2 separate regions of the Homo sapiens genome follow, and region 1 is linked to region 2. Evidence: fine-mapped expression QTL. A gene starts in region 2. The other region holds a variant in brackets. All regions are shown on one strand. Distances are between the middles of the regions. Region 1 overlaps SEZ6L (seizure related 6 homolog like). Region 2 holds the start of SEZ6L (seizure related 6 homolog like).

Region 1 (3,012 bases), 170 kb before region 2:
CAGGTGCATGCTGCTATGTCTGGCTAATTTTTTTTGTATTTAGTAGAGATGGGGTTTCACCGTGTTGCCCAGGCTGGTCTCCAAATCCTGAGCTCAGGCAATCTGCCCACCTCGGCCTCCCAATGTGCTAGGATTACAGGCGTGAGTCACTGTGCCCGGCCGTCAGTTGGGTTTTTGAAGACACATTGATGCAATGGTCTTGGCTGCATGGGACTCATTGCAAAGTCAAATGCTGCATTGTAAGAAGAATCACCTTCAAAACTCCCATTATTGGCAACCATTTCTTAGGTGACATCTCTGTGTTAGGCACCAGGCTACAGGCTGGGGCTATGACCTGCATCTTTCATTCTTCTTCAGTGCAGAACATGCTGACAGCTTGCTAATTACAACTTGCATTTTTATATAAGGTGAAATGATCTTTCCATTTATCACGGGGCAAATTCCTCAGAGTCAACTGAATGATCCATTATGTTTAAGGGGTAGGGCAGAGGTGGGATGGAGGCACCTTACTTATGAGATATGCTCAAACCTGTCACCATTCATACTGTTAAAGGATGACACATTTTCAAAGACTCCAATGCAAGAAAGTACCTTGACACTAAATAATTAAACCACAGTGGATAGTTAATAATCCAGAAATCACTTCACTATACCACAGAAACATGTGCCATCTCAGACATGCTAGATAAAATTGATCTCTAATTGAAAGAATGCCAGATAATTCACCTTTGGCTTCATCAATCATGGACAGATACAAACTCACATTTCTTTCTTTCCTTTCTTCTTTCCCTCTCTCTGTCTTCTTTCTCTCTCATGTCTTTCTCCTTTTCTTGTCTCCTTCTCCTTAATGTTCTTTTTTGTTTGTTTTTTTGAGCATCTACTATGAGCCAGGCACTGTGCTGAGCTCAGAAGGGTCACAGAGTAGTGATCTATTTAGATTTGTAAGCCAGGGATTGTGGCAGGAGTTATAACCAAAGTAAGGACAGAGAAAGTAAGGACAAACTCAGATTAGGGGCATCATGGAAGCATTCCTGCAGTAGGTGATGCTTCTTGCTCTGAAACCTCAAGAAAGAGTAGGAGACCTCGAGGCAGATAAACACAGAGTAGGGAGTCCAGGTGCAGTGGCTTACACCTGTAATCCCAGCACTTTTGGAGGCTGAGGTGGGAGGATTGCTTGAGGCCAGGAGTTCAAGACCATTCTGGGCAACAAAGAGAGACCCTGTCTCTACAAAAAAAAAAAAAAAAAGAAAAAAAAAAAGTCCGGGCGTGGTGGCTCACGCCTATAATCCCAGCACTTTGGGAGGCCGAGGCAGGAGGATCACGAGGTCAAGAAATCGAAACCATTCTGGCCAACATGGTGAAACCCCGTCTCTACTAAAAAAAGAAATTAGCTGGGCGTGGTGGCAGATGCCTGTAGTTCCAGCTACTCGGGAGGCTGAGGCAGGAGAATTGCTTGAACCTGGGAGGTGGAGGTTGAAGTGAGCTGAGATTGTGCCACTGCACTCCAGCCTGGGCAAAGAAGCGAGACCCTGTCTCAAAAAAAATTTTTTTTTTTTGGTGTGGTGGTGCACCTCTGTAGTCCTAGCTTCTCAGGAGGCTGAGGCAGGAGGATTGCTTGAGCCCAGAAGTTTGAGGCTACAGTGAGCTATGATTGTGCCACTGTACTCCAGCCTGGGCAATAGAGCAAGAACTCATCTCACAAAACAAAACAAAACAAAAGAAAACAATGAATG[A/G]TGGGGAGAAGGCAGAGGGAAGAAAGGAGTAAGACCATGGTTCCTGAAAGAATTTTTCCAGTGGTCAGTGTGCCTGGGGTATGGGGATAGGCATAGAAGCCTGCAGAGTTCTGCAGGGATTAGATCATGAAGGGCTTAAAGAGCCAAGCTTCAACTTTTGGACATCATCTTGCAGGAGACGGGGAGACACTGAAGGGTTTTATACGGGAACTGTATGACTGAGCAATTCAATGCCAGAGGAGAGGTGTTCTGGGAAATGGCCCTGAGCAGAGTTCCTGAAACTGATGCAGACTGACAGTGGCCCTCCCTGCTGATAGCTTCATCCAATGGCCAACAGTGGTGTTTGCTGCTAGTCCGGGAGTTGGGAGGTGAGGTGGCAACTACCCATGTTGGTGTTTCAGGTGGTCAGAACAAAACAACAGAAACACAAAGAAAGGTATTGAAAGTTTGCTTCTGGGAGGGCAGGGATTGTATTTTATTCACCCCAATACCTTCCACCATACCTCTCGTAGTTCCTCATGTAAAGTTGCTCCAAGGGGTGGCTTAGGAAGATTTTGATTGCCGCCATAATTTTCACCAGTTTCCCCTATGCTACTCCCAAAACATCTTCAAATAAAAGCTACCTGCTTGCTTTGCACACATGTCTTCAAGACAAAATCCCCAGACTCCTCCTACCCCCCTGACAGTTTTTAACCAGATTGAAGCCCCTAAACCCCTGCTGTATTGAAATTCTGGAGTTGCCACTTGTTCTTGCACACAGTAGGTGCTCAATAAATGCTAAGGTATGAAAGAGCCTCCCAGAGAGTCTACTTGACAGCAAAAATAGTGGGACTGATGTCAGCTTTGGACCTGTAGTAGGGGAGGGCCTCTTTAGCTCTACGTACCATGAAAACATCAATTGTTCATGAAAGTGCCGGATTAGACTAGTGTGAAACATGGTAGATGGCAGATATATTCCTTAAGCCGACTTCACAGCTGATCCGCTGGTAACAGTAGTTTACAGACAATGCACATCTTGGCTTTATTCTTTCACTTAAATGGCCAAAACGCAGTAGCAGCATCTTCAAGGGTGAAAATAGCTTTCATTTTAAAACCATACGGCAACTCTTTGTTCTCCATAAAATAGGATGGAGCAATGTGCAGGGAAGAGCACACTGGCTTGGAAATCAGAAAGCTTTGGTTTGATTCTCAGCTTTGTCACTTTCATGGAAGGCATGTGATTTTTCTGAAATTTCTTGTCTGTGAATCAGCCTTAATATTCCTCGTCTATGTCATGAGC
Region 2 (2,500 bases):
TGCTAGGCAGTAGGGGAGAGAGTAGAGGGGAGCCCGTTCAGGTTCCCAACTGCTAACTAACATCTCTTCTCCCTCCCCTACCAAGTTCTCAGAGCCCTCAGCCCCCTCCACCGGCCTCTAGCGAAAGCCACACCCAAGTCCGGTATCCTGACGCTTGGCTGAGATCGATCCAGGAACACAGACCCTCGGGGTAGCCTGAACCAAAGGAGTCAAGGGTTTCTGTGGTGTCGGGGGGAGCGGCAAATGCACTGTTTGAGTCTAGTCCTCAGTTGCAGGGTGGGTCAGCTTCTCACCCCCCTTCCTGTCCTCTCCCGGAGAGGAAGATAATTATCTGGCACCTAGCCCCGGGTGCGGTTGCAGAGAAGCGCCGGGAATTTGGGGTTTGGAGGCGACCCCACTCCAAGGAGAACCTCTTTGGCTGCAAAGGAGAATCAGCCCCGCAGCCGGGGAAGACCGAAAGGGAGCCCGCAGCCGAAGCAGGGAAGCGCCCGAGTCCTTCAACACATCCCCGCCTCCACACTCCCATCAGCCCGGGCCAAGGGGACGTGCGGTTCCTAGCCCCGATTTTGGACAGCCACCACCGCTTCCCATCCCGGCGGGTGGTGCCTGAGTCGCCCTGGTCAGCCCCGACCCCTGGCTGCCCCGCTCTCCCGGCAACTTTGCCCCCTGCCCGCCCCGCCCCTCGGGGCGCTTACCTCGCTCCAGCGCTGCCGCCGGGCTCCCCAGGAGCAGAGCGAGGAACAGCGAGATCCCGCGGAGTCCCGCGGCGGGCGGCCGGGCCGCGGGCATCGTGGCTGCAGGGGGCGCGGAGCCGCTGGCTGTGGGGCGGGCGGACGGCGAGGGAGCTGGGGAAGGAGGGCGGCGGTGAGCGAGAAAGGGGAAGCGGGAGCGAGGGAGGAGGCCGCGGGCCGGGGCAGCTTCCGGAGCCCCCTGGGCGGACGCGCGCTCAGCCCCGCGGTCGCTCTGGCCGAGCTGCGCCGGGCGCGGGCGGGCGAGTGAGGAGGAGCCGGCGAGCGAGCGAACGAGCGTGGAGCGAGCGGGAGGAGGGAGGGGGCTGGGGCCGAGTCTGTGCCGAGCGAGTGCAGGGAGGGAGGGGGCGGGCGAGCGGGCAGTGAGCTGGAGGGGCCGCGGCGGCGCCGGGGGTGCCAGCCGCCTCCTCTGGCCGCCGGCCCGTCGGCCCTGCAAAGTTTAACGCCAATTCCCCTTGCGTCCTGGGAGCCGAGCGTTTTCTCTCCCTGCTGACGCTCCCAGCAGCTCTGCCTGGCCAGGCCAGGCTGGAGAGCACCCGGACCATTTTCCAGACGGTGAGATGGAGCCCTGGAAACCGAGCTTATGAGCAGCCCGGAGCTTTCCATTGCCTGCCCAGCCTTCCAGATACATCCCAGTTCCAGTTCTTTCCAGAGCCCTCTGGGATCCAGCCAGCCTGCTTCCCCGCCAGGGCCTCACTGCTTCCAAAGTGAGTCCCCATAACCTAGAAAGTCTGTAACTCTGTGGATCTGGTGACAGCTGTGAATCTACTAGAACACTACACATAGCCACAAAATCGTGCATCTAACACGAGGGGGTCTGGACCCCTCTGAAGCCCAATCACGAACTCTAAATTAAGATCCACCTCCACTTTTTAATCTGAGCCCTGTCTCCCATAACCCCACTGCCGGCAGGGCACTAGCGCTGCGAGGCTTCCTCTCAGGTCAGCCGCTTGCCTCTTCCTGTACCCGCTTCCCTATCTGAGCAGGACTACAAGGCCCACCTCTGCAGCATTCTTGCCCAGGCCTGATTCTCAAGCAAAGTCTTTTCTCCACAAATAGAGGTAGTGAGGGACAATCAATGAGGGAGATAAACAGATACTTGGGGACAGACATTGGCAGAGAGCTAGGTGGGGACAAGCTTATGCACAGTCCTGGAGACTGACTGTCTCTCCCTGCGTAGCCTTGGCAGACCGGTCAGGCTTTACAGGCCTCTCACCCAATTTAGAAGCTGTCCTCCTCCCCCTACCCTACCTTGCCATACTATCTACACACTGCAGCCTGAACAGGCAGAGGGAGCAGATGGAGAGAAGGTTGCAGGCAGCAACAGGGGGAGGAATATGTCTTTAGCAGCGTGGTGGAGCCGGGAGTCCCTAGAAAGAATGGGTGGGGGAGGTGAACACTGGATGGAGGAGGGAAGGAGAAGCACTCTGGCCCAGGGTTTCAGAAGACGCTCCACACCCAGAGCTTCCCCATTTACTCACTCAAACAATGCTCTTTTACAGGCCACTGACTATAGGCCCAGACCTGCCTCAGGCTTTGGGGGACAGAGAGCCCCCCCATAAAATCCTATCTTCAGCTGCAAGAGGTTTCCATTCCTGGCAGTAAACCCAACTGGCTTTTATAAAGAAGGTGGCTGAGGCAGGGATGCAGGAGTGCTGATTTCTCCTTTGGAGAAGATGAAGCACTCCATGCTTTACTGTATGAGGCTGCCAGCTCTCTGTGGAATGACCTTGCCTGTTTGTGGCTATACG

What was found. PIP is the estimated chance that this variant, and not a neighbour inherited with it, causes the effect.
Region 1: its variant is the best candidate, but not a certain one, in a credible set for the expression of SEZ6L in cerebellum (GTEx, PIP 0.75).

Annotation. Positions count from the first base shown.
Region 1 is chr22:26,337,102-26,340,113 of GRCh38, reverse strand. The region is part of intron 9 of SEZ6L (seizure related 6 homolog like); the gene reads right to left. Among named protein-coding and RNA genes, the nearest start is that of ASPHD2, 91 kb to the left of the region's middle. The variant A/G (reference allele first, on the strand shown) is at 1,734.
Region 2 is chr22:26,167,959-26,170,458 of GRCh38, reverse strand. It overlaps SEZ6L (seizure related 6 homolog like), which reads right to left and starts at 997. Exons shown (of 17, transcript NM_021115.5): 1 at 696-997. The coding sequence starts at 789. LOC105372971 (a long non-coding RNA gene) reads left to right here and starts at 1,225. Exons shown (of 6, transcript NR_188586.1): 1 at 1,225-1,456. RefSeq lists an enhancer at 1-18 and a silencer at 845-974.